Regions from separate parts of the Homo sapiens genome. Here all the other regions are linked to region 1. Evidence: fine-mapped expression QTL. A gene starts in region 1. Each other region holds a variant in brackets. All regions are shown on one strand. Distances are from middle to middle. Region 1 holds the start of CRYBG1 (crystallin beta-gamma domain containing 1). Region 2 overlaps CRYBG1 (crystallin beta-gamma domain containing 1). Region 3 holds the start of LOC101927405 (a long non-coding RNA gene). Region 4 overlaps CRYBG1 (crystallin beta-gamma domain containing 1). Region 5 overlaps RTN4IP1 (reticulon 4 interacting protein 1). Region 6 overlaps CRYBG1 (crystallin beta-gamma domain containing 1). Region 7 overlaps RTN4IP1 (reticulon 4 interacting protein 1).

Evidence for each region. PIP is the estimated chance that this variant, and not a neighbour inherited with it, causes the effect.
Region 2: its variant is fine-mapped to the expression of CRYBG1 in whole blood (TOPMed, PIP above 0.99).
Region 3: its variant is fine-mapped to the expression of CRYBG1 in lung (TOPMed, PIP 0.97).
Region 4: its variant is fine-mapped to the expression of CRYBG1 in whole blood (INTERVAL, PIP above 0.99).
Region 5: its variant is fine-mapped to the expression of CRYBG1 in tibial nerve (GTEx, PIP above 0.99).
Region 6: its variant is fine-mapped to the expression of CRYBG1 in blood mononuclear cells (TOPMed, PIP 0.94).
Region 7: its variant is fine-mapped to the expression of CRYBG1 in whole blood (INTERVAL, PIP above 0.99).

Annotation. Positions count from the first base shown.
Region 1 is chr6:106,359,010-106,363,105 of GRCh38, forward strand. CRYBG1 (crystallin beta-gamma domain containing 1) reads left to right here and starts at 1,708. Exons shown (of 22, transcript NM_001371242.2): 1 at 1,708-2,072. The coding sequence starts at 1,900. RefSeq lists silencers at 1,509-1,718, 1,739-1,818 and an enhancer at 1,714-2,580.
Region 2 is chr6:106,537,744-106,541,839 of GRCh38, forward strand. It overlaps CRYBG1 (crystallin beta-gamma domain containing 1), which reads left to right. Exons shown (of 22, transcript NM_001371242.2): 9 at 1,660-1,786; 10 at 3,843-3,878. Among named protein-coding and RNA genes, the nearest start is that of RTN4IP1, 90 kb to the right of the region's middle. The variant T/C (reference allele first, on the strand shown) is at 2,522.
Region 3 is chr6:106,500,033-106,504,128 of GRCh38, forward strand. The region is part of intron 2 of CRYBG1 (crystallin beta-gamma domain containing 1); the gene reads left to right. LOC101927405 (a long non-coding RNA gene) reads right to left here and starts at 2,189. Exons shown (of 3, transcript XR_245566.4): 1 at 1,883-2,189; 2 at 884-982. The variant G/A (reference allele first, on the strand shown) is at 2,323.
Region 4 is chr6:106,531,698-106,535,793 of GRCh38, forward strand. All of the region lies in intron 8 of CRYBG1 (crystallin beta-gamma domain containing 1), which reads left to right. Among named protein-coding and RNA genes, the nearest start is that of RTN4IP1, 96 kb to the right of the region's middle. The variant G/A (reference allele first, on the strand shown) is at 2,066.
Region 5 is chr6:106,599,349-106,603,348 of GRCh38, forward strand. RTN4IP1 (reticulon 4 interacting protein 1) reads right to left here. Exons shown (of 9, transcript NM_032730.5): 5 at 3,526-3,574. Among named protein-coding and RNA genes, the nearest start is that of RTN4IP1, 28 kb to the right of the region's middle. The variant G/A (reference allele first, on the strand shown) is at 2,324.
Region 6 is chr6:106,551,373-106,555,468 of GRCh38, forward strand. CRYBG1 (crystallin beta-gamma domain containing 1) reads left to right here. Exons shown (of 22, transcript NM_001371242.2): 14 at 480-606; 15 at 812-844; 16 at 2,083-2,195. Among named protein-coding and RNA genes, the nearest start is that of RTN4IP1, 76 kb to the right of the region's middle. The variant G/T (reference allele first, on the strand shown) is at 2,499.
Region 7 is chr6:106,613,221-106,617,220 of GRCh38, forward strand. The region is part of intron 4 of RTN4IP1 (reticulon 4 interacting protein 1); the gene reads right to left. Among named protein-coding and RNA genes, the nearest start is that of RTN4IP1, 14 kb to the right of the region's middle. RefSeq lists enhancers at 199-706, 1,214-1,720 and a silencer at 374-668. The variant A/C (reference allele first, on the strand shown) is at 1,732.

The DNA.
Region 1 (4,096 bases):
GTCTCAAACAAAACAAGACAAAAAACTGCTACAATATAAGCAACAATATAGATGATTTTCACCGACTAATATTGAGCAAAGCAAACCAGAAACAGAGTACATATTGTGATTTTCCACTAAAATGAAATTCCAGAAAAGGTCAAATTAATCTCCAGCAAAAGAGGATGAAATAATGGTTAACTTTTACAGGTGGGAGGGGTAATGTACTGGAAGAGGACAGTAGGGAGATTTTTAAAGTTTTGAAAGTATTCTATATTTTTATAATCATATATATTTACCTATTATTATTATTTGAGACATAGTCTCATCCTGTTGCTCAGGCTGGAGTGCAGTGGCGCCATCTCGGCTCACTGCAACCTCTGCCTCCTGGGTTCAAGCGATTCTCATGTCTCGGCCTCCCGAGTACCTGGGATTACAGGCGCACCTCCACCACCACGCCCAGCTAATTTTTTTTTTGTATTTTTAGTAGAGAAGGGGTTTCACCATGTTGGCCAGGCTGGTCTCAAACTCCTGACTTCAAGTGATCTGCCTGCCTCGGCTTCCCAAAGTGCTGGGATTACAGGCGTGAGCCACCGCTCCTGGCCTATAATCATACATTTAAAAGCCACATACGGAAGAATTTTCTAGGACAATGTCAACTCTCCATTAAAAAACTTTTCACACCCCAACCACATAAATATGTAAAAATTTGAGTTTTACCCTTATGATTTGTGCATTTTACTGTCTATAAATTACATCTTGATAAAAATGTAAATAAAAACAAATAAAAATGAATGTTCCTTGAATGAGTGAATAAACGAATGAATGAGTTGTGTTTTCAAAGAGGAAAATAAAGACATTACCGTGAAAGAGGATCTTGTACTGCATTGAATTTTTAAGTAGTGCTTAGTTCTTGCACTTTCTTTGCTCTAATGATGCCCAAAATAATTGTTCGTTTACTTACTTTGCTTAAGTATTAATTTCCTTTGCTATTTAGCCACGACTGTGAAGTTAAGACAAGAAAGTCATCAACAGTAATGCAGATGATGTAAATACCTTGTGGGACTGGCATTTAATTTACTGCGAGGGATCTATTAAGCTCTTGGGGAATTGGGGAATATGCCTAATTCCCTTCTGGCGTTTTTAATTTTTTTAATCCTTTTGTGTTTTATGAGATGTGAGTACAAATTAATTATTCAGACTCTTGAGAGAGGAGACGAGTTGGCGGAGTTGCCACCCGTGTTCACGAACAGGAACAGAAGCCACCAGCACATGACATTGCCCAAGCCACCCAGAGATCAGAGTGGAAGAGTCCTAATTGCTGGGCGGCCCAGCCCCGGGATGTGCCTCTCCCATCCTTCTCCAGGCGGGGCTCGTGGCTAAGCAGCGACTCACCCTGCCAGCCTGTCACAGGCCAAGAGCGGCCAACAACTCCGCAGGCGACAATGGCCGCTGCACCCCAGGCGCTGTGGAAGCCCGACCCGGCTCTGGGTCCCATCTTAGAGCCTGGGATGCAGTGTCGGGAGTCGCGGTGCCCAGAGCATCCAGTAGGTGTCGCTGTCCCACGGCCGCCGCGCGCCCCCGGGGTGGGGAGCCGGGGCGTGTCTGCCTCACCTGGGGCTCCCGGCGCGAGCGCCTCACCTGGGCTAGCGCCCCTTGCCGCCCGCGCCGCGCGGGGGCGCTCTTCCGCGGCTGGGTCCCCGCCTCCGCCCCAACAGCTCGGGCTGCAGTGCTGCTCGCGCTGCGCTGGGTGCTGGTTCTGCAACCCGCGGCCGTCCCCCCGCATCCGCGACGAGGGGGCGGGGTCCCACGGCGCGCTGAGAAAGGCGGGCGAGCTGGCGCTCAGGTGTGTTCTTCCATAGGGCCCGGGCGGCAGAGAGGACCGCGTCCCGGCAGTCGGAGCGGGAGGAGGACAAGACGATGCCGCTGTCCCCGCCAGCCCAGGGCGACCCCGGGGAGCCCAGCCCGTGCAGGCCCCCTAAGAAGCACACCACCTTCCACCTCTGGCGCTCCAAAAAGAAGCAGCAGCCGGCGCCGCCTGACTGTGGGGTGTTCGTTCCGCACCCGCTCCCGGCGCCTGCCGGAGAGGCCAGGTGAGCTCCTCGCCCGAGCCCTCCAGTCCCACCTCCTCCTCCTCCTCCTTCTCCTGCTGCGCTAGCCCTTGGACTCCTGACCCCACTTGGAGGAGGGGAAAGCCCCGGGGTCTGTTTCAGTCCGCAGGAGGGTACCCGGGTCCGGAGGGGAGCGATCGTAGCCGCTGGGGTTGACGAGGTTCCTCGCGGCTTTTGGTTCAGACCAAGCACCGGCGAGAGGAACTTGTGCCCACGCATGTGGCCTTTAGTATGACTGCAAAGTTTTCATGCAGGAGCCTCCCGCATCAGCCTGCTAACCAGAGCGGCGGGGAGTGAGGGTTGTTACCGTCCTAAATGATGGCGGGAACTCTGCTTTGGGGTTAGGCACTGCTTTTGAGCTAGTGTCTTTATTGTAAAGCTCTTTATTGTGAATATCTGTAAGATCTGTGCTCTTACAGATGTTATACCCCCATTCTCCTCGCAACATACGAAGGGAGGAGGAAGTGGCAGGAATGGTTACCCCCATTTCATGGGTGGAGGAACTGAGACCAAAGGATAAATGGCTTCTCCCCATTGGAGCCAGTGGCAGAGCTAGAGAGCACCTAGTTATCAAAACTGTAGTTACCATTGTGCTTTTTGATTTTTATCATGGTTTTGAAGTGGTTTTATTCTATATGTATAATTATTCAACTATAGCATCAGAGTTTATGCATTCGTTGAATAATAATCAATTTGAAGTAACAGCGTATTTACATGGCTCAGAGGTGTGAAATATTTATAGTGATGGACAATTGACAATGTCCAGTAAATCCTTCCAAATGTGTTTTTAAAATACACCCTATGAGGGCCAGAATAAAATTGTGCAAAATTTGCATTTTAGACATGGTTTTCCTTTTATTTCTTTCTTTCTTTTTTTTTTTTTTTTTCTGAGACGGAGTCTTGCTCTGTCACCCAGGCTGGAGTGCACTGGCCCAATCCCGGCTCACTGCAAGCTCCACCTCCCGGGTTCACGCCATTCTCCTGCCTCAGCCCCCGAGTAGCTGGGACCACAGGCGCCCGCCACCACGCCCGGCTAATTTTTTGTATTTTTAGTAGAAACGGGGTTTCACCGTGTTAGACAGGATGGTCTCGATCTCCTGACCTCATGATCCGCCCGCCTCGGCCTCCCAAAGTGCTGGGATTACAGGCATGAGCCACCGCGCCCGGCCTCTCCTTTTATTTGTAAAAAAAGTCAATTTTACGATCTATTTTCATTCACTTATTGTATTGAGTACCTTAGCTAAGTGCCATGTACTGCGATATAAAAAACAATGAGAGACAGGAATAATTGTGTCATCAAAGAATTGTTAGTCTCTTGTGGATACCAAAAAATGCAATGATAGATGCCAGCACACAGGAGGGGATCAGGGAGGCTTCCTGGAGGAGGATAGGTGAAGTGGCTTAGGCAGAAACAGGGAGGAGCAGCGAGTTCCAGGCAGGGGCTGCACTGTGCACATCACCAGCACTTAGAAGAGCGTGGCACTTCCTGAGAAGCGCAAGTGGTTGCAGCGGGGAGGTCTAGGTGTGAGTGGGTAAGGGTAGGAAACCTAAGAAAGAAGTCATTTTATTTTTCTCTCATATTTTATCATCCACATTGGTAATCAGTTGTAGTAGAAATATATTACCTATTCAAACGTTTACTGTGCCTAATTATAGATTATACTTTCTAACAAAATACAGTATTTAATGTACCCAACATTGAAGTTCTTTTCTATTACCTCAGTAAATATTTTAAACATTTCCATCGTGGTTTTCCTTTTAAGATCTAGTCTTATCATTTACTGTCTATCAAAACATAATAATACACAGCTATAGGTAATTTATTCAAATGTAAATACATTTTAGTATAAAATTTAAAATAGGAGGCCGGGCGCGGTGGCTCACGCCTGTAATCCCAGCACTTTGGGAGGCCGAGACGGGCGGATCACGAGGTCAGGAGATCGAGACCATCCTGGCTAACACGGTGAAACCCCGTCTCTACTAAAAATACAAAAATTAGCCGGGCA
Region 2 (4,096 bases), 180 kb after region 1:
CGCCCTCTTCCCCAGGAACCATCATCCTGACTTCTAACACTGTAGTTCTGACCTCCTACCCATATCCCACACCTGGCCTCCCAACATTCTTTCATGTGTGTGTTGTCAAATCATCAGTAGGAGCCTGGTTGTAAATCTCTGTATAATTAGAGAGTCTAGAGAAGTTACCAGTTTATCCAGCGGAATCTTCACAAAAACCACCGCCAAAAATGTGCCTTGGGCCAAAATTGGGAAGAAGAAAAAAGCAAAGAGGGAGGGGTCAGACCCGTTTTGTTGGTAAAAGATTTCATTTACAGCCACTCTCTTCTTGGCATGGTGTTCTGGGGAACACAACATGGTGGAGTACCACGGCTAAAACATTTTAGCAAAACTAACCGAATTGATGAGTGTAAGTGATCACTAAGAAGTCTATGTTTGTTTATGAAGCAGGTACATTAACCCCTCTCTTATAGAAAAGTCACTTCTTCAGCATCCTCACCTTCTCAGAACCCTTCCCAGGAACGAAGATGTTTACAAGAAGACCTTGTAAAGTTTAGAGACAGGGCTAGTAGGCATGGTTTTCTGGTTTCCTGATTTCTGGCACATTAGAGGAGGGTGGGGCTGCTGGTTCCCCAACTGAAGCAGAAGTGACAGCTGACAAGCTGATAGAAGGGTGTGGTATTGAAAAGCCATAACAATCAGAACCAAGAACTCAAAAAGCTTTGTGGCCTGGGAACAAGCAGCCCCACAGAACTTCAGAGCCCCTGAGGACACCACTGTGCATTAAATAATGCTCACAGTGATGATCCTGAGTAACTGTGAAAAGAGTAAACTGTGTTCAATGCACTTCCTGCAATGAGAAAAATTGCCATCACAAAAATGATTAGGGCTGGGCATGGTGGCTCACACCTGTAATCCCAGCACCTTTGGGAGGCCAAGGCGGGCGGATCACCTGAGGCCAGGAGTTTGAGACCAGCCTGGCCAATATGGTGAGACCCCCTCTACTAAAAAAAAAATGCAAAACTTAGTCGGATGTGGTGGTGTGTGCCTGTACTCCCAGCTACTTGGAAGGCTGAGGCAGTAGAATCACTTGAACCAGGAGGCAGAGGTTGCAGTGAGCTGAGAGCAAGCCACTGTACTCCAGCCTGGGTGACAGAACAAGACTCCGTCAAAAAAAAAAAAAATTGATTAGGAACCTGGTTCTGGAATCGGCTTGAATCATTCCAGCCTTTCATACTTATAGCTGTGTGGCCTTGGGCAACTTACTTAACTTTATCTATAAAATGGGGACAATAGCTTCTCTTCCTCATAGCATGGTTGTGAGGATTAGATGAAGTTCTCAGTGGCATTCCTTGTAAGCTCTAGGGAGATGTTAGCTGTTACTAATGTTTGGCACCATGACAAATGATTAGATGGAACTTTGGAGCAATTAATAATACAAATTAAAATAAGGGGACAAAGCCAGCCAAGGAGAAAAGTAAAAGATCAAGAATAGGGGCATATAATGGCTTTATTTTTCCTTGAGTCTAGTGTGATTCTAACACCTGAGTCCAACCATTCATTATGTAGGTCCGTATCCTCTCCTGTTCTTTTCCTCTCATCCTGGGTACCAGACAGAAGGAAAAACTGAAACAAATGATGAGTCGGCTCCCTTTCTTTCCTTCCATGGTGGCTATTTAGGTGGCTGATTTATGAAGAACCTGGATTTCAGGGTGTTCCTTTCATCCTGGAACCTGGTGAATACCCTGACTTGTCCTTCTGGGATACAGAAGAAGCGTACATTGGATCCATGCGGCCTCTGAAAATGGTAAAAATGAAATCCAAATGTCCTTGTGGTGATTCTTTGTCAGCTTGACGTGGTAATTCACAGGGTGTGACTTTGAAGCAATAAAGCTGACTTTTAAGAAACAAATTTGTAGTAGATTGGACCTATTGCTCAATAGAAATCATGGAAAGAATAACTTGCTAGATGCTATAGATTAAAAAAAAAAAAAAAAAGGCAGGTAAGACTATGTCCTTTGTCTTTAAGGCATTCTCAGCCCTGCAGAGCTGCAGATGGGTGCGCAAAGCTTCAGCGCAGTGTAGGTTTAACAAGTGAGGAAAGTGAAGAATTAAACATTGGTGGAAAAACAGGACAAAGATACATACAATTCCAAGTTGTGGGTGATGTGACAGAAAAGGGATAATTAGGAAAGCTTCATGCTAAATTAAATTCAGTCTTAAAAAATTAGCAGGATGATTTTTTAAATGGAGCTGTCGGTGAATGCACTGTGTGAGCTAGGGTGCAGCCTGAGAGAGAGCAGGGCACGCTGAGGACCGGCTCGGCTGCCGTGACACGAGTGGGTGGTGTCTTGGGGGTCTCTGGGGCTGGACCAGATGAGTGTTGTCCTCCTGAGTATCTGCTGTGGAAGCTTTGTGCTTCCTCTCCCTTGTCCCAGTGTCTTGCTTTGTTCTTTGTTTCTTCCGCTAGACTGTCAGCTTTGGGAGGAAGCAGGCCGCATCTGTCTTGTCCCCAGTGTTGAGCGCAGTGTGTGCTGCAGCA[T/C]GGAAGTTGTTCCCTAAATACCCACAGTGAGATGAGGCTCCCATTACAAACATGTTTTTGAAGCTGCACTTCGCAGTTGTCTTCTGAGACAGTTTGAGACAAATTAGAAAGTTAGGAAGACAATTTTTTTAATGTTAATTTTACCCATCCTTCCAAAGTATTTGGTTTAATTATCTGTATGTTTGCTGGTCTTAATGCAAATGATTTGGGCTTTTGTTTCTAAAATTAAACTCACTTTCAAAGAACAAAGTTTTGTTAGTTTTGTGAATGTATGAAAGAATTCATCCAGGTTTTAGGAGCAGTTTGTAATGATGATGAAAAGTCTCCAAAGTCTATGGTGTTCAAACAGGATTACTTTTGAAAAGGTCATGTGCTTAGTTGTATAATCTCTGGTTTGCTGATAATATCAGCCACATTCCTTTTTCCTTTTTTTTTTTGCTTGTTTTTTCATAAAAGTTAAGGAAACCAACACATTCTTTTATAATTATAGTTCATTTGGTGCCTTTGAGCATCCTTGGTGGTACTTTTTTTTAAAAAGCTATTAAAGATATATTAATTTTAAAAAAATCCAACTTTCCCATTGCTGATTTAAACTCTTGAACTATTTAATATTTTTGTGCAATATCTTTTTAATGTAATACCATTTCTCTGATTTTAGTGAGTTTTTTTGTTTTTAAAAAGCTTTCTATTTTATAACAACCCCTCATAGACTCATCCTTTGGGATGTTTTAAATTTTATTTAACAGTTTATCTAATTATTCCATGAGTCCCCCAGATCTTATTATGTGAACTTCAACACATAATAGTTTCGTAAGCCCTGGTTGCAAAATCAAATACCTTCAGGGGCCAGGCAGCAAATACAAATGGCTGAGAGTTAAACCGAAGGGAATGGTAGAGACGGCAACCCCGGGCCTGTGCCCAGCTGAAGGATGAACTGAGGGCAGGATCGTTAAATGCAGAAGCCGAAGACAGTGGCCTGGGAGAATCTGGGTCCAGAGATGTCAGCTCTTGGAACTGCTTTTTCAAGAGAAGTATGGATTTTTATGATAAATTTTCCAAGTTAAAAAAACTTGCTAGGTCAAAAAACACTCCTACAACGCAGATCAGCTTATAGACTGCTTGTGCGAGGCTCCGTTCTAGCCTGCCTTCCTCGTGTCTTCATCTGTATTGTTGGTAATTTTAGAACTATCTCACGTAAGTTAAAACAAACCAGAACATAGTCACACTGAAATTCAATGTTTTACTGTAAACTGCTATGGCTAATATAAAATGGTAATGTATCAGTGAAAAACTATTTTTCTTACTATGTTGTTTTTTTCAGGGTGGCCGTAAAGTTGAATTCCCTACAGATCCAAAGGTAAAAATATATATGTATTTTTGTATGTATGTATATGTAATTATTTAAACATATACACATATATATGTACTTAATGTTATTCCCACTCCATCTCTATGAAGATATTGCTTATGTGACTTCTCATATTAAACCTCTGTCACACATAAATGCAGCCAAAGGAAGTTGCCAACTTACACTTGCCATCCTTCAGGGTGGAAGATGATGCTAATGGCACTGGT
Region 3 (4,096 bases), 140 kb after region 1:
TGCATATATACCCCATTTGCTTTATCCATTCATCCACTGGTGGACACTTAGGTTGATTCCATATCTTGGCTATTGTGAATAATGCTGCAATGAACACAGGGGGCCAGATATCTCTTCAACATACTGATTTCATTTCTTTTGGGTATGTACCCAGAAGCAGGATTGCTGGCAGTTCTATTTTTGTTTTATTGAGGAACCTCCACACTATTTTCCATAATGGCTATACTAATTTATATTCCCACCAACAGTGTATAAGAATTCCCATTCTCCACATCCTCATCAACACTTATCTTTCACCTTTTTGATCACAGCCATTCTAACAGGTGTGAAGTGATAGTTCATTATAATTTTCATTTTCATTTCCCTGATGAACAGTGATGTTGAGCACTAAAAAAAAAAACAAAAAAAAAAACCTCTTGGCTATTTGCATGTCTTCTTTTATGAAATGCCAGTTCAGATCCTTTTTCCATTTTTTAAATCAGATTGTTTTTGCTGTTGAGATGTCTGAATTCCTTGTATATTTTGGATATTAATCCCTTATCCAATGTATGATTTGCACATATTTTCTCCCAATCTATAGATTTTCTCTTTACTCTTTTGTTTCCCTTCCTGTGCAGAAGCTTTTTAGTTTGATACAATCCCATTTGTCTACTTTGTGCTTTTATTGCCTGTGCTTTTGGGTCAAATATGTATTTATTTCATGGTTTTCTTTTCCATTTCCCTTCTCTTCCCCAGAGATTGTATTGGGCATTTTACAAACATTTCAGTTTATCCTTAAAATAATCCAGAGGAGGAATATTTTAGAAACTAGATTTTGGGGAGTCATTTGAGAAAGAGAATAAGGCTAGAGACAGGCCTTTGTTTCTATCTGAAAGTTGCTTACTCAGGTTCGGTGATAGGTGATTGCCCCAAACCACTGTCCATTCCATGATACACTGTTGTCTGACTCTTGATTGTTGATAGGCTGGAGGATAAAGGATTTCTGGAAAATATGTACATTTGGTAAATATTTAAGTGCCTATTGGTACCAAGCATTGATGAAGAGGTAGGGACACAGGTGAACAAAATAACGTTCTTGTTCCTCACGAAGCTTATGTTCTGTAAGCAGACACAGCAATAAAGAAATATACAAATATATATGCAATATGGTTCAGGTAATGTTAAGTGCTATGAAGAAAAATAAAGGAGAATAGATCATAGAAAGTGAGGGTGCTGTTTTACATAGGGTGATTCAAAAGTGTTCACCCTGCATAGTTTGCATATCCTCCATACCTTATGAGCTGCAAAAAAGAGATTAAAAAAAGAGTAGGCTTATATTGTTTTCTTTATTCTAGCCATGACACATTAAAGATGAGTGCTCATGAGCAATGATATGCCAAGTTCTGCAGACAAATTAGCTCTGTTAGAAACTACATCTGATAAAGCTGTTATTTTCATCTCCTTCTCACCAGTTGAGAACCATAAATTCATTGTGTTACTTACTTAGTTTCTATAATTTTAACTTGAGCAAAACATCAGCAAAATATCGCACTGTTAATAAAGCCAGCCATCACTGTCATAGGCTACTTTGTGCTTTTCAAAAGATGTTCACATGTATCATTTCACATGAATTTCTCAGTACCCTGTATGATAGATGTGCAACTTTTGAGAGAATAAGTGATTTGATCCCATTTAGTAGTATTCCTGAGTTCTGATCATAGAAGTGTGAAATCTACTTCTTAATTTGCAAAGTGTTGGTAGAAAGTCAACAATTCTCACTAGAAACTACAGGAAACTAAGACATTTCTGGGCAGTGTATATTAATTGGAAAGATAAAGATTGTTCCATTTTCTAGAAATAAATCCACTATTAAATCCACACTTACAAACATGGCTAAACTGACCTGAAGTTATGAGGTCTCAAGGTCACTAGAAGTCTCAGAGCCAGCCTAGCTAGAGTCCGTGCTGTGTTGGAGAGGCTTGTCTGTTCCTCTTCTCCAGCTCTCATTTCTCTTCTGGGTCCCAGTCAGCCCCAGGGCCTCTGACTTGGCTGTAGCTGTGCCTGGTCGGGGCAGGCAGGCTGTGTTAGTTGTCTCCAAGGGCCGCTTCACCCTCTTTCCCCCAACTTAATCACCATCTCCTGCATCATATCATTTATACATGGATGACCCAACTGAAGTTTAGTCCTTGGTTCTTTAGTACTTAGATTCTGAGACTCACCAGTGGCTTTTAAGTGCTTTAAAGTAACCATTCTTGATCTTTGACATGAATTATTGCACAAGTCATTCTTTTTAAATTGCATAAGGAATGTACTTTCTGGGTTACAAGTTAATAAAAAGGAACT[G/A]ATTTGATGACTTCACAAGGAACACATTTCCATTTTCCAGTTTGGCTAAATTTTAGTTAGGAACTAACTTGTCAGTAATTTGATTATGTTAATCAGGATATGCATATAATCCAGGAGGTAGAATAAGAAATACTTTTGCTATAAATTTCAAACTACTCTATCTCCTTTTAATTACACATTATGCATAAGAAAAAAAATCGCCGAATTAGGATAATACATCTCAACTGTAAAGCAAATTAATTCAGCCGGATAGCTTTGTGAGAAAAAGAGAATGTTGGGGAGACTATTCAAAGTACAGGTAGAGAAACCTTCTGGGGTACTTGTTAGTCATAATTAGGCACACAGTAGAATTAGTCAGGATCCCAGCACAGGAAACATATAGCACACTCAAGTTGTGTAATTAAGGAAAGTAGTGAAGGACTATTTACAAAGTGTGGGCGAGGTTTTAAGGAAGCCAAGAAGGGCTAAAAAAAACCTTAGGCTTCAGGGTTCTTCTTTCACATGGCCTCTTCCAAGGCCCTCTCCTTAAAATCTATAAGCCAGAATTTTGTGTTCTTTGTCTTAAAGAAAACTCTCAAAATAACATATGCCTCATGCCCCACAAAACTTCATTCTACCTCAAGCAATAGCTAATGAAGCCTTCCCATCTGGCACCTGGTGAGGTCCTTTCCCATCTTAGGCCTGAAGGAGCAAGAGGGGAAAGCGGCTCGGGAATATGGGGAGAGAGAACAGCGGCGGAAGTGGGCTGCCTGGCAGAAGCCCTGGTCACACCCAGCCACACCCAACCCAGAGCCCAACTAAGAGATGGAGAGATTAGGGGGGAAATCAGGGCCTCCCACTGGCTGAACCTAACCAAATCCTAAGGACAAGAAAGTCAGTTTCTACCTTCCATCATAACTGGGAGCCTGGGGCGCAGACAAGGCTGAGGGAGGGTGAGCCTACGGAAAGATCCAGCACACTCTATCTACAATTACCTGGATTCTAAAGACAGAGCTCCATCACAAGAGAGGGCTCATTGGCTGTTTATGCTATCACATCCATTGCTGTACTGCATGGCCTAGGAGAAAGCATGTAAGCCATGCCTTCATAAAAGTGACACATTAATCATTCTAGTAAAGTCTTATTTTTCTAATGATACATTATAATTTCTAACAAGAAAAAATACTGAGCTACCTTTTAGAAAGCCTGACTTATGTCTTAGAAAAAATAATTCGATTCTACAGGCCACAGGTTGCCTCTTTAAGGTGCGGAGAAAATTCTGGCACAACGTAGACACTCAATAATTATCAGTGGAATGAATGAGTAAATGATCCTACAATTCAGACATTCCATGATCTTATCTTTTATCTTCCTTTCTGATTGATCATGTGTCGATGGCTTGAAACAATTAGGTTTCACTTTGTCTCTGTCAAAGTATAAATGACTTAAAGACAATACCAACCCGAAACTGGGAGTCTGCTTTTTAAAAGAAGCTTTTTGGGAGAATGAAATTATAATTATAAATTATAAATTAACTTTTATAATTGATGGCTTTTGTATTCAGTGACACCTCTTTTTCAGGACACAGGTTAATCTGGAAGTTAAAAAGTCTGTCACTATTCTTTCACCCAATAGTATACCTTTGATTGTACCCAACAGGATGATATTATTGTTTGGCCTGAAGTGACAGCATTAGAAAAAAAAAAAAAAAAAAACCACAACCATTGAGGTGTAAGTAGAGAGGTATGTGTTACATTATGTTGAAATGACAGAAAAAAGATTTTTTTAAAAAAAG
Region 4 (4,096 bases), 170 kb after region 1:
AAAAGTTCACAGAAGGTAAATGTACACTTAAACAAATAAAGTGAGCACCCAAGTAGACACCACTTGAGCCAAGAACTGGAACATTACCAGCACCCCAGAAGCCCGATGGTATTCTTTCCCTATGGCAGCCCGTCTCAGAAAACAACCTTCCTCTCCCAGAAGAGTGAGAAAATAACAAGGGAGGACTATAGTGATGGTTCGTCAATATACAAAGGTGTAGTTACTAGGGCAGAATTTGGGGTGTAGAGAACAATATTAATTTAAATATCTCCTCTTGATGTATAAAGTTATTTTCCAAGGATAGTATACATTTTACTGCTTTTTAAATTATTTTTAATTGACACATAATAATTGCACATATTTATGGGGTACAATGTGAGGTTTTGATACCTGTATACATTGCATAATGATCAAATCAGGGAAGTTAGCAAATCCATCACCTCAAACACGTATTATTTCTTTGTGGTAAGATCATTCAGAATCCTCTCTTCTAGCTATTTTGAAATATAAAATATATTATTGTTAATCATAGTTACCCTACTGTGGAATAGAACACCAGAACTTATTCTATTATATATTTTTACCACATTTTCTTTATTCATTCATCTGTTGATGGACACTCAGGCTGATTCTGTATCTTGGCTATTACAAATAGCACTGCAAGAAACATGCAAGTGCGGGTATCCTTTGACATACTTGATTTCATTTCCTTTGGATATATACTCAGTAGTGAGATTGCAAGATCACACAGGAGTTCTATTTTTAATTTTTTGAGGAGCCTCTATACTGTTTTCCATAATGGCTGTGCTAATTTATATTCCCACCAATAGTGTGGAAGAGTTCCCTTTGCTCCACATCCTCACCAATACTTGTTATATTGTGTCTTTTTGATAATAGCCTTTCTAACTGGAGTGAGGTGGTATCTCATTGTGGTTTTGATTTGCATTTCCCTGATCTTGAGTGATGTTGAACATTTTTTCATATACCTCTTGGCCATTTGTATATCTTCTTTAAATAAATGTACTGTTTTTTGTGTACATTTTGAGTTATATCATTTGGTACCCCGTAGTCCTTGAAAGGCTCTGAAATTTTTAAAGGTGGTTAGTTTAGAAGTAGAAATTAGGAAAGGCTTTTATTTCCTCTGCATACCCTGTCTAAATATGACAAGAAATTGGGACTTTAACAAATATAAACCCAAAAGAGTGTCTATGAGATGTATTAAATATATTCAGTAAATCTGTTAATCAAGCATCTACCATGTGCCAGGTGCTTTTCTAGTCACTGGGAATACAGCAGTGAAGACATAAAATGATGTCCCCATTCTCCTGGAGCTGTCAGTCTAGCAGGAATAAACAACACAAATACATATATAATGTGTCAGATGGCAAAGGCTACAAGAAACATAAATTACAGAGGGGCAGGCATGTTGCTATTTTAGATAGGGTAGCTAGTAAAGGACTCTGGTGACATTTTAAGGAGGGACCGGCAGGAAGTGAGGGAGTCTGCCCTGGAGCTAGCTGAGGGAAGAGGGGCAGGGAGCCTGTCCCAGAGAGGAAGCACACCATTTGCAAAAGCCCTTCTGGGCATGCTTGGGCAATAGCTAAGAGGCCAAGGCGGCTGAAGCTGAGTGAAGTAGGAGGATAGGGATAAGACAGGGCTCAGGTCACATCTGGCCTTTCACGCCTTGGGGAGGAGGATTTAGATTTACTCTACGTGGCATGGAGAATCATTGGCGAATTTTTATCTAACTTGTGTTATTAATAGAAGGATCAGCCTGTCTGTTCGTATAGAAAATAGTCTGTAAAGAGGCAAAGGTGGAAGCCAAGAAACCACGTAGGATGCACTTGCAATCATACAGCCAAGAAGAGATGGTGGCTTAGACGTGCGATGGTGGTGGTGGGAAATGGTCAGATCTTGGATGCATTTTGAAGGTAGAACTAACAGCATTTCTGACAGATTGTGTGTGGGGTATGAGGGGCCAAGACATGCCCAGGGTTTGGAACCCCAACATTTATTGAGACGAAAAAGACTTGGAGGAGCAGGATAGGAGAGAGAGTGAGATTCA[G/A]GAGCTCAGTTTTGGACAGGTTAAGGCTGAGATGCCAACTGCAAATTCAAGTAAGTGGGCAAGAAGGTGACTATGTGAGGCTGGAGTTCAGGGGAGAGGCTGGAGGCATAAATTTAGGAGTCACTGGCAAAGAGAATGTATTTAAACCAGGCACAGGACACAGTCCCAAAGGGGAGTGGGTGTAGTTAAGGGAAGAGAAGGCACTTTTGTATTTAGAGACTGGGAAGAAAAGTGGGAATCTAAGCAAAAGAAAATGCCTTCATCTCTTGCTGCCTTTAATTTTTTTACATGAAAGAAGTCTATACACTTTTTTTTAAAGAATTGGTGTCAGGTTGAGAAACACCACTTTCCTTAGAAAAGAATGAAAAAGGCATCTGTTATCATATTTTAATCTCAGTGTCTGGAAGGTGCCATGACTCAGGCTTGGCTATGTTGAAGCACATTAATCTACCTTAAATGATATTTCTTACCTTTGCAGTAAGTTTAGCTTTGCCTCCTGGGTGGTAGTTACCAGCCTGTCACAGCTTACAATTTATGACAGGTTTGTGTCATGGTGAGCATCTTCTTTTCTGGCTGTTCATTTCTGTTGAACACTGCCTCAGATGTTAATTCAAAGTTTGGGCTCGTTGAACTTGGTTGGTGAGCTTAGACACCAGGTCATTAGTGCTTTTATAGATCTCAAAGGAAAGTCTCAAGGGGTTGAGAAGATGTCACTGATAGTAAGTACTGAAGCTCATTTTGCTTCTGTTGATGCACTGGTTCCCCTGAACTGGGATAAGAAGTCTTTGCTGTAGAGGGAACTCCTTAAGAATCCATTAGGTGATTTATTCCAGGGCCCATTCACTCTAGATTAAGCTCTTCTACTCATACACAAAATAAGGGTGTTACTTGTCTGGTCAAATTCTTGTTTGAGGAAATGAGTGATTTCTAACTAAACTTGCCTTTCAGATTCTGTTGAGAGTAATTTGTTTTTAAATCTTTCTTTTAAGCAGCTGGCTAATCCTGGCACCCATCCTCCCAGAGGTGAAAGCATATTGGGTTTTTTGGGGGCGGGGTGTGTGTAGGGGTGGAAGTGGGGGGTGGTATATTTATGACGAACAAAAGCAAAGAAGTTTAGAACTTCAAAGGGAGTATAAAGATGATCTGGCCCAACACCATCATTTGACTGAGGAAGACAAGCTTTGGTCACTTTCTCCAGACTAGGGTTAGCTGTTAGCAGAATGTGTACTAGAATGCAGGTGTTCTAAAGTCAAGGGACTTCTTTTTTAATTGACAAACATTATTTGATCATTTGTACTGTGTAATATTTGACATATACAGAATAATATATGTATATATGTGAACTATGAAGCCCAATAATAAAACAATCCCCCGTGGACCCACCATCCAACTTACAACCTAGACCATTACCAACATTGCTGCCCACCGTGGTTACACATGTAACCACACTCCTAAGATTACTCATATTGATGGGTACATCTCTATGTATTTTTTTCATTGCTGTGTAATAGTCACTGTATATTTCATTGTGGAATATACCATATCAGAGCCCAATTTTTTATTATAAAAGTTTTCAAACATACAGAAAAGTAGGAAGAATAGTTCAGTGAACACCAATGTACCATTCACTTTGACCCAATAATTGTTATCATTTTACCATATTTGTGTTATTTTTCTGAGCACTTCAATGTACATTGGAGATATCATGACCCTTCATTCCACATAGGATTCAGCCTGACTCTCTTTCTAATGGTATTCCCCTGCATAAGTATCATTATTACACTTGAGAAAATTCACAAAGTGTCCATGATAATATCTGTTCAATAGTCCATCACCAAATTTTCCCAATTGCTTCAGGAATGTCTCTTATAGATTTGCATTTTCAAATCAGGATCCAATCAAGGTTCACATAAATGCGTTTGATTGTTCTGTCTCTTTTAAGTCTCTTTTTAAAGATCTCTAAAATACCCCATCTTTGTTTCCCAAGCCACTAACTTTTTTTTTTTTTTTTTTTTTTTTTTTTTTTTTTTT
Region 5 (4,000 bases), 240 kb after region 1:
AAGAATTAGAATACCACCTGTGTCCCTAAGCCTCCCAATTAAAACCTCCTCAACTCCCTTAAAAAGTAACTACTAACTGGACCTTTAGTGTAACCCTTTTTGCTTTTTTTTTTTTTTAAGAAGTTTTACTAAGTAGACACCACCCTTAAACACCACTGCTTAGTTTCACTTGTTCTTGAATGTCATTAAATGGAACGATATAGGATGTACTTTTGCATCTGATTTCTTTTACTCAACACTCGGTTGTGGTATTCATCCACTTCACTGTGTGCAATTATAGTTTTTTCATGACTGCATAATATTCCAATGTAAGAATATACCACAATTTACTTACTCATTTTACTGTTGATGGACATTTGGGTTTTTCTAGTTGGGGAATTTTAACAGGAATAGCCCTGCTCTGAAATTCTGGTACATATCTTTTGGTAAACATACTTGTATATCTATCTATAGGTTATAATCCTAAAATAGGAATTCTTGTGCTGTCCTTTTTTTTTTTTTTAGAAATTTTACAATTTATATTGACATTTAGTAGATGCCAAATGGTTTTCTTAAGTGGCTGTATCAATTTATACTCTAACCAACTGTGTATGATATTTCTCTTTTCTTTTTGCCTCTCTCCCTCTTTTCCTTTCTTCTATTTATTTATGTATTCAACTCATATTTACTGAGCCTCTGGATTGGATTCTGATTATCAAATGATGAGTTAAAAGAAGTTAAAGTGTGCATCCCAGGAATCCTCGCCTCCTTCACCTAGTTCAGTCAGCAGACAGACAGGAAGCCTCCAGCACCATCTGGGTTCTCAAAAAGTCTAAGCTGGGTCTGGGGTGGTCTATAACACCCAAACCTCCCTCCTGGAAAGTAATGTGGCAGAGCCTCTGAGGCTACTCGCTGGCCCCTACTGGGGAAAAGAATCTCTCCCCTCATCCTGAGAGAGTCTTAATCAAGCTCCCTCTTCTAGGAGCCAGTCAGTTACACATCTGACCACAACAGGAGCAGTCACTGGGCCCCATCATGTTTCTGGAGGCTTGGGGAACTTTTGGTTTGTTTTGTTTTATTTGAGGTAAAATTCATATATATCACCATTTTCACAATTTTAAAGTATTTAAAGTATACAGTAGTCTCTAGTACACTCACAATGTTGTGCAACCATCACCACTAATTCCAGAATATTTTAAGTGCCCCAAGAATAAGCCTCACACTCATTACGTAGTCATTCCCCACTCCCTTCTCCATCTACCCCCAGCCCCTGACAACCACTAATCTGCTTTCTGTCTCTGTGGATTTGCCTATTCTAAACATACGATATAAATGGAATCATACAATATGTAGGACCTTTTGTTTCTGGATTTTTCTCACTTAGCATGTTTTGAAGATTCATCCATGCTGTATCATCATCAATATTTTATTCCTTTTTATGGCTGATATATAATATAGATATATAATATTCCATTATATGTCTATACCACATTTTGTTTATCCATTCATCAACTGATAGTTATTTCCACTTTTTTTCACTATTATGAATAATACTGCTATGAATATTCATGAATAAGATTAGGCTTAAATATATGTTTTCATTTCTCTTGGGTATATACCTAAGAATGGAATTGCTGGGTCATATGGTAATTCTATGTTTAACATTTTGAGGACCCAAGAAACTCTCCCACAATGTCTGCACCATTTTAACTTCCCACCAGCAATGTATGAGTGTTCTAATTTATTTACATCTTTGCTAACATTTTTTATTTTCTGTGTTTGCTTTTTATTGTAAGACACAGTATCTCACTGTGGTTTGGATTTGCATTTCTCTAATAAATAAAGATATTGACCATCCTTACATGGACTTACTGGCCACTTGTATATATTCTTCGGAGAAATGTCAATTCAAGTTCTTTGCTAATTAAATACTGTGCTGTCTTTTTGTTGTTGAGTTATAAGAGTTCTTTATATATTCTGGATACTAGACTCTTACCAGAAAATGATATGGAAATATTTTCTTCCATTCTGTGGGTTGTCTTTTCATTTTCTTGATAGTGCCCTTTGACATACAAAAGTTTTTTTAATTTTGATGAATTTTTTTCTTTGGTTGCTTGTGCTTTGGGTGTCATATCTAAAAATCTGTTGCCAAATCTACAATCATGAAGATTTTGTCTTATGTTTCCTTCCAAGACTCTTTTTTTCCCTTTCCCTGCCTACTCTTCTAAGAGTTTTACAGTTTTAGCTCTTATGTTTAGATCTTTGATCCATTTTGAGTTTTTTGTTTTTGTTTTTGTTTTTTGAGACAGAGTTGCACTCATCACCCAGGCTGGAGTGCAGTGGC[G/A]TGATCTAGGCTTACTGAAACCTCCGCCTTCCAGGTTCAAGCAATTCTCCTGCCTCAGCCTCCTGAGTAACTGGAATTACAGACACATGCCACCATGTCCAACTAATTTTTGTATTTTTAGTAGAGACAGGGTTTCACCATGTTGGCCAGGCTGTTCTTGAACTCCCGACCTCAAGTGATCCACCCACCTTTGCCTCCCAAAGTGTAGGGATAATAGGTGTGAACCACCATGCCTGACCTTGAGGGTTGTTTTTCTTTTTTTAATATGATGTGAGGTAGGGGCTCAACTTCATTCTTTTGCATGTGGATATCTAGTTGTTCCAGCAGTATTTGTTGAAGGAACTATTATTTTCTCCATTTAATGGTCTTGCCATTCTTGTCAGGATCAATTGACCACAGAGGTATGGGTTTATTTCTGGATGCTCAATTCTATTCCATTGATCTATAAGTTCACCCTTATGTTTTGATTACTGTAGCTCTGTAGTAAGTTTGAAATCAGCAAGTGTGAGTCCTCCAACTTTATTCTTTTTTAAGATTGTTTGGCTATTTGGGGTCCCCTGTGATTCCACATGCATTTTGGGGTCAACTTGTCCATTTATGAAAAGCAAAAAAAAAGCAGTTGCATTTTGATAGGGATTGTACTGAATCTATAAATCACTTCAGGGGAGTATTGCCATCTTAACGGTATTTTGGCTACTGTATTTCTATATAAATTTTAGAATCAGCTTACCAATTTCTACATTTTGCAGGCTTTTTAGCCTGCAAAAATTCTGCTTGGAAACTAGTATTGGTTTTTGACATTGGCTGTTTCCTATTAAATTGCTAACTTCCATCTACCTGCACTGCCCATGGTCTTCCTTCTTAAAAGCTTTCCTACGTCTGTTATCAAGGACATCCACACACCCACTCATATTAAACTACTAGAAAGCTTAATGCTTCCTTCTACATTAGAATATTTTCCTTACAGTGAGCTATGATTGTGCCACTGCACTCCAGCCTGGGTGACACAGCAAGACTCCATCTCTAAAAAATAATTTTTTCTAATAAAAAAAGAATATTTTCCTCTTACAGAACAAGCTGAAATTACAGTACATTTACCAGACCTACCTTTCTCTCAGCTTTTAAGGAGAAATAATGTATCTTAATTTATAAATTCATGCAAACAAAATCCTCCTATTCACAAGATTAAAAAATGGTTTTACCTGTATAGCAAAAGTACCAACTCCGCCTGAAGCGCCTAAGATTAGAACACTGAAATGCAAAGGAAACCACAATTAACGAGAATCTAAAGCAGATATAACTGGATAAACGTTTTCAACAAATAACTGGTTGATGATAAGATGATAAATAATTCTAAAAGAAAATAAAGTTATTCAGCTTCCCAAGATATATTACACAAGGATTTTTATTTTAGGTTCACCAAGAAACTGCAGTTGCTTAAAATAAAGACATTCTATGAGCTCTGTACCAAGAATATCAAATACCGAAAATACCAATAATTTGTTGGTTTAAGATAGCTCAGATGGTCCTTTGTAATATCTGCCTTATAATTTTTCTAGGCTAAAATTGTTAGAGCTTCCTCTATGAGAGGGAGATTTGGGGCCCTTTTTAATTTGTTATGCTTAGCTGTTCTCTAAGAAAAATCACATTCCTGACTACATTCTCACCAAAGCGAAA
Region 6 (4,096 bases), 190 kb after region 1:
CATGGTTTATATGTACCACATTTTCTCTATCCAATCCACCATTGATCAATGAACACCTAGGTTGATTCCACATCTTGATATTGTGAATAGTGTGGCAGTAAACAAGACACGTGCAAGTATCTTTTTGGTAGAATAATTCGTTTTCCCCTGGGTATATCCCAGTAATGGGATTGCTGGGTTGAATACTAGTTCTATCTTTAGTTCTTTGAGAAATCTTCAAACTGCTTTCCACAGCAGCTAAACTAATTTACATTCCCACCAGCAGTGTATAAATGTTCCCTCTTCTCTGCTGGCTTACCATTCTGATTTGTCCTATAGACAAACCCATCTGCTTCTAAAGGTTAATGGAGAATCAGAAAAATTAAAATTTCAATTGGCAAAACAAATGAAAGTTTCTGTATGATACATAGATATCCAAATATGTGATCGTTTTATATGTAAAATATGAACTCCAACAAGTGATTGCTTTTGTTTCTTAGATGGGTAGCCTATGAAAATCCTGACTTCACAGGAGAACAGTATATACTGGATAAAGGATTTTATACCAGTTTTGAGGACTGGGGAGGCAAAAATTGTAAGATCTCTTCTGTTCAACCTATATGTTTGGTAAGGAGTTATATTTTTGTATGAGAATATTTAACTGAATTCTGGATTTCCTTAATGTGTGTTCCTGGTTCATGTAATAGTAATTGCTATGGAAAATATTCTGAGTTTATTTTTAGCAGTAATTGCTAATAATCTAGAAGAAAAAAACTTTTTCAATGTGTTTGTTCTATTCATTTCCTTTTCTCCTTCCTTTAAAAATTTTTAGGATTCTTTCACTGGCCCAAGGAGACGAAATCAGGTAACTTTAAAAATATTCTTTTATATTAATATATAAAGGGCCTTCCATTGAAAAGCTGAACTTATGTTTCAAATGTCAGACATTTGGGGCCGGGTGTGGTGGCTCACGCCTGTAATCCCAGCACTTTGGGAGGTCAAGGCAGGTGGATCACTTGAGCTCAGGAGTTCAAGACCAGCCTGACCAACATGGGGAAACCCCGTCTTTACTAAAAAGACAAAAATTAGCTGGGTGTGGTGGCTTGTGTCTATAAGCTCAGCTACTCAGGAAGCTGAGGCAGGAGAATTGCTTGAACCCCAAGAGGCAGATGTTGGAGTGAGCCGAGATCGCACCACTGCACTCCAGCCTGAGTGACAGAGACTCTGTCTCAAAAAAAAAAAAAAAAAAAAAAAAAAAAAAATCAGACATTTGGGACATTTTGTTAGTTTTACTCATTTTTATGCCTGAAAGCATAATTGTATTTAAAAAATAAGATTTAAGTTTACTTTAATGGTTAATTGACAGTACTGACCCATGTCTAAATAATTCTTATAAAATGCTTATTGTATAAAGCTGAATTTTATATCATTACATTGACTCAGTTTATATTAATACATTGAGATTAATATTTCAAACAATAGCATCTAGTTATTGTGATGGTAAAATGAATTTTCATATTTGCTGTGTCGACACTAGACATTTTTTATGGTCTCACTCAAGCTTTCTGAATGCTGATTCTTAACATCAACTGGGGTGTACATTTGTTATTTCGGCCTTTTAATGGAAGTGTTCACAGAGCCATAATTATAGAGGAACAAACACCACTATAGCCTCCTTTATTGGCATTCACAGGATTCCGATAAGTCAGCAAGTGTCTTCCATTGAGAAGGAAGGAAACTACACTATGTCTTTCCAAAATACTGTTTGTCGTTAATGTCAGAACTGATGAACAATGATTTCTGACCACAATAAAGCTTTAAAATACCTCACAGCTTCACAACAGGGTGTTCTATAGAAAGTTACCTTTGTTGTTGCATTTTACTTTGATGTCTCTGAATTAAATAAATAGTCACGAATGGCGCAGCTAACATGTTTCTAATTGATCATGAATGTAGACATGGAAAATTAAAGGATTTCTAAAATTCGTACCAGTTTACTGTAACAAAAGTCAGCAGGTCATGTTTAGGTCATCATTTCAAAGGCTAAATTAGTTAATGTGTTTAGGAAAATAATTTTATGTGTTTCTGTTTACTTTTTCAAAGATTCACTTGTTTTCAGAACCACAGTTTCAAGGTCACAGTCAAAGTTTTGAAGAAACAACAAGTCAAATTGATGATTCATTTTCTACCAAGTCTTGCAGAGTTTCAGGAGGCAGGTAAGTGAAACAAAGGCCTGGCAGAGCTGAATCACTGGAGTAAAACAGAATTCACACATCAGCAAGTATATAGTGATGCCTGTTAGGTGCTTGGCACTATGCGAAACCACCATCTTAGTCCAATGGCGTGCTTCGTGATATCTGAGTACCAGACGCCAGAGGACACGGGCTTCAGGTTGGTTGGAGAAGCTGAAGATCATCTCATTGTGTAATGGAATTCAGAGCAGGTTCTTTACTCTGTATGTCTTCCCATCATCTAGAAAGGGAGAGTTGGGCTCTAGTTAATCCAAGGTACCTCCCAAG[G/T]TGGATTGTTCAAAGGACAGGATCGGCACTCTGCATTAACAGGAAGGTAGAAAGTACACGCTGGAGTGGAGCTGGTGGACACGCGAATCAGGGAGCATACCAGTCCGGCTTGCTGGGAGGGCTTTGTACTGGGAGGAGAAGCAAAGCTGAGCACACTGAGTTTAGATGGCTTCCACAGGAAACACAAGACCCAGGGCAAAGGCAATGGGCTCAATTGTTTCATGCTGAAACAATCCTTGTACAAAAGCTTCATGGAGAGGGGAGAGCCCAAGGTCAGGGAAACTCGGTCAGGAAAGCCTTGGAGCAATCTGTGCAAGAGGTGTTGAGGATTTAAGTCTCTTAATAATAGTAGTAATAGTGCCTTTAATCACGTGGTTCTTTATGGTTGAAATAATGCTATCCTGTCCTTTAGTATTGCACAGCAAAAAAGCACTGACTTTGCATTCAAATACACAGATGGAGGCCGGGTGCAGTGGCTCCTGCCTGTAATCCCAACACTTAGGGAAGCCAAGGCAGGCAGATCACTTGAGGTCAGGAGATCGAGACCAGCCTGGCCATCATGGCAAAACCCTGTCTTTACTAAAAATACAAAAATTAGCCGGGCATGGTGACACACCTGTAATCCCAGCTACTTGGGAGGCTGAGGCAGGAGAATTGCGTGAACCCAGGAGGCAGAGGTTGCAGTAAGTTGAGATCATAGCACTGCACTCTAGCCTGGGCAACAGAGCAAGACTGTCTCAGGAAAAAACAAAAAAGGCAAATACATAGTTGGATAGTAAAGCTTCCTAGTTTGTTGGACATACTGCTACCACATCCCCACTCCTCGTTATCCCCTGCCTGCTTCATTTATTACCTCCAGTCCTGTGCATGTTTAAAATTACCTGTCTCAGCTCACTAGAGTATTAACTTCAGGAGAGCAGGGACTTTGGTTCTCTGCTGTATCCCCAGCAATAGAAAAGTACCTGACACATAATCCTCAAAAGGCATTTGTTGGGTTAAAAACAACAACAACAGGGCCAGGCACGGTGACTCACACCTGTAATCCCAGCACTTTGGGAGGCCGAGGTGGGCAGATCACCAGGTCAGGATTTCGAGACCAGTCTGGCCAATATGGTGAAACCCCGTCTCTACTAAAAATACAAAAATTAGCCAGGTGTGGTGGCATGCACCTGTAGTCCCAGCTACTCAGGAGGATGAGGCAGAAGAATTGCTTGAACCCAGGAGGCAGAGGTTGCAGTGAGCCGAGATCATGCCACTGCACTCCAGCCTGTGTGACAGAGCGAGATTCTGTCCCCCCGCCACCAAAAGAAAAGAAAAAAAGGAAAAAAAAAAAAAAGGCCCACAAACTTCTAGGGGAGCATGGCAAATCACCATTTTATGAATAATGTTGATACCAGAGAGGCTAAGTGACTTGTCTAAGTCAATATAGTATTTTGACTCCTGGCCCAGTGCAGAGGTATTAGAAATGAGGATAGAGGAGTGTGCGAGAAATTTTGGAAGGAAATCAATAGACCAAATCAATAGGCCTTGGTGATTAACTAGTCACAAAGCTTGAAGAAGGATTATTCAAAAAGGACTTGAGGGCTTGAAGCTCCACT
Region 7 (4,000 bases), 250 kb after region 1:
GGTTCGTAGTCACTTCTGTGTAAAGTTAAGTTATCCCTAGCTGTCCTAGTTTAAGAAATGCCTTCCAGGAATTTCTTCCTACCTCTCATTAAGTCAACTCACCTAAGCCACATGACATTTTCTTAAAGCTGTGTATCACTGCACCCAGCACAGGGTCATGTGAGTAGTGAAGGAGAAAGAAAGTTAAACAAGGTTTGAAATGTACAAAGCCAGAAGCTAGTCTGTGGAAAATTCCTCCAATTAAAAAAATGTAAGAATTTACAAGACAACACTATATGGAAGAGGTTAACAACAAACTAATCAGGATTGTTCATTAAAATACAACAGTATTTTAGGCTTATTCACTACACAAGAAAACGTGAAATGCCTTGAAATCTGTAAACCAAAAATAAAATTCTAAGGCCCCAGCCATCTGAATGGACTCCTCTTCTTGGCCAAGGACATTCCAGAGTTCCCTGAAAATCTAGTTCTGCTCATGATGAGAGAGGAGGTTGCAGGCCTCATTATACCCCTGCAGCATTAACATCAACACAGAACTTGAATCTGATAGGAAACATTTACAGTCTATTCTCTCTAAAGCTGGCTACTTGGAGGCTTCATCTGCATGACAAAACCTAGGTCTCTACAACCCCTTATCTTAACCCAGACATTCCATTTCACTTATAATAAATCTTTCAACCAACTGCCAATCGGAAAATTTTTAAATCTACCTATCACTTGGAAGCCCACCCCTCTTCAAGAGGTCTCACCCTTCAAGATCAGACCAATGTAAATCTTATGTGTATTGATGGATGTATTGTCTTCCAAAAATATATAAAAGCAAGTTGCACCCTGACCACCTTGGGTGCATGTCATCCGGAGGCTGTGTCACAGGCGTGTCCTTAACCTTGCCAAAATAAACTTTCTAAATTGACTGAGACCTGTCTCAGATATTTTGGGTTCACAAATCTTATAGCTGGCATATAAAAGGAACTTGGAAGACATTGTTCCAAATTTGGCAACAATCTTATATTTTACATGACACGAACAATAATGAGTAGTGCTGAGGAAGGTGAAAGAGCAGGGTTTATGAACAATGTCAGGTTTTGACTTAGGGTAAACCACAATTAACTGACATTAGGATTACAGAGGAAGAGTTGGGGTGGTAGTTGGTAAGTGTTGTTTTGCTCAAGTTGAGTTTGAGATATAAAGAGAACATCTGACTGGAACTCAGTAAGAGGACAGAGTTAGAAATACAGATCTGTAAGTTACCAAACTATAAGTAGAAGCTGGGAGTAGATGAGATAACCCTGGGAAACAAAAAGGAAGAATAGAGTGGAATACTGGGAAAACAGCACATTTAAAGGGCTGGAGGAAGAAGTGGGGGCTTCTAAAAATGACAAGAAATGGTCAACAACAAAAAAAGAAAACTTAAAAGTCTTAATGTCCCTGAAACCATACGAAAAGTAAGTATTTAGGAAGTGTTCAACAATGCCAGCTACTTCAGAGAGATCAAATTAAAATAAGAACTGAAAAATGTCTTTGGGCTTGGCAACTTAAGTCACTTAAGTTAGCTACGACCCCAGTGAGGGCAGATGCAATTGAAAGGCAAGGCTAGAAGCTAGATTACAGTCCATTGAAGAGTAAATGACTTGTAACCTCACGAGATAGTTAACCTAGTCACTTAGAAAGCTATTGTATAAAACACAAATTTCCAGGAGTGAGGTTTCTGCTATTCTTTCAAGTGCCCAC[A/C]GCCCCCACCCCCCCACCCAGGACTCCCTGGAAAATAGACCTGAAGCAAAGGAAGATTCATTTCCATCACACTGACCAAGCCAGAGCCTCCACTCTCACTCTCCTTGCCTCCTCAACCCCATACTTTGTTTATGCAAGAAAACAGCTGGGGTTTCTTTCTACTTCCCCTTACCCCCCTAACAATACAACCCAGTCAGGTGCAAATGAAAACTTAAAGTCCAAAAGGGTAATGGGCTTGGGGAGTGGGAAGAAACAGGTGGTGGTGGGGTGAAGAAAAGGCCTTAGAATGCATTTGAAAGAAGAAGGCTGTCATTTTAATTTTAATATAAGCATATCGGTAGGGAATAAACCCAATGTTTTTAACTCTGGGCCTAATTCTATAATTCTATATCAGAATTAATCAGACACCTAATTTACACTTACATGACAAAATTTTACTGCCATAAAACCTAATATCAAAAAAAAAGTATTCCTAAATTCACTTCATTGAGTTGCAAGTATACACAATTTAAAAGTGAAATTTATTTTGTGGAGGAGGAATAGTTCAATTCCTAACTCTGTTGCCCAGGATGGAGTGCAGTGGCATGATCTCAGCTCACTGTAACCTCCGCCTCCCGTGTTCAAGCAATCCTCCTGCCTCAGCCTCCCGAGTAGCTGGGACTACAGGCACGCAACACTACACCTAACACCTTTTAATACTTCTGTCAAACAGAATGAAGTACAACTTTCCCGGCAAGACATGAATTTCAGGCAGAGCATGAAATATTCAAGTGCACCAATGACACTACCAATAAATAAAACCATCAAATCTTAACATATTCAAAAAATATCCGGTTGTAACAACTTTTTAAAAAAATTTCTACTTATCTTGAGAGCCCTAAGTTATCTATGTGTTCCTACTGAACAAATCATGAAGAAACTATAGATGGGCTGATAAAAAGAAAATAATTTTCACTTGACATTTTCTTTTTCTTTTTTTTTGTTTTGAGATGGAGTCTTGCTCTGTCACCAGGCTGGAGTACCGTTGCGCAATCTCAGCTCACTACAACCTCCAACTCTGTGGTTCAAATGATCCTCCTGCCTCAGGCTCCCGAGTAGCTTGAACTACATGTGTGTGCCAACACGTCCAGCTAATTTTTGTATTTTTAGTAGCGACGGGGTTTCACCATGTTGGCCAGGATAGTCTCGATCTCCTGACCTCTTGATCCACCCACCTCGGCCTCCCAAAGTGCTGGGATTACAGGCATGAGCCGCCGCGCCTGGCCTCACTTGACATTTTCTAATGATATCAATGTGTGGACAAAATGACAGTATTATATGACATCAAGAATAAACTATTTCCTTGGTTCACTGATACTCAGCTGCTGCAGAAAAGTAACTACAGAACAAAGGGGGAAAAAGGTAAACATCATTGAACCCTTAGAAAGATTTGTCCTAATTTCAAATAAGCTGTTTGTTATAAAGAAATCCTATAAAATCTTCCAAGGTGCTGATAGGTGTTTTTGTCATTGTTAATTTTGTTTTTTTTTAATTAACTGATTAGAAAAAAAAGATGATTCATCTTTGATAACAAATACTGATGTGCTTTGTGCAGACTAAGGCATGCCTTAATGCCAATAGCTAATAGCTAACAGAAAAAGAACAGTTATTGCTTAGCATATTGAAGCCAAAATATGCTCCATCAATCACAATGAATAGTCAAATGGAAAATCCACTTTGGACACTGGAACTTCTGAGTTTAGGTACAATAAAATCTCATTATAGAATTTCTTCATTAAAAGTATTTTTACAGTATTTTAAGGTGCTCACATCTCTCATGTGACTCTCACAAATAAGCAGTTAAAAGAGGTAGGCCATTATTATAACCCATGTGTGGTAATTTCAGTAAACCGAAATTTCTGAGAGCAGCAAGTACCAAGTGCTATGGTCTGAATGTTTGTAATGTTTGTGTCCCACCAAAATTCGTATGTTGAAATCCTAACCCCCAGGGTGATGGTATTAGGAGGTGGGGTGATTAGGTCATGCAAGCGGAACCCTCATGAATGGGATTTGTGCTCTTATAAGAGAGAGAGACCCCAGAGATATCCTCACCCCTTCCAGAATATGAGGACAAGCGAGAAAGCACTGTTAAAGAACCAGAAAGTTGGTCCTCACCAGACACAAAACCTGATGTCACCTTGATCTCAGGCTTCCCAGCCTCCACAACTGTGAGAAATAAATTTCTCTTGTTTTTAAGCTACCAGTTTATGGTATTTTGTGATAATAGCCT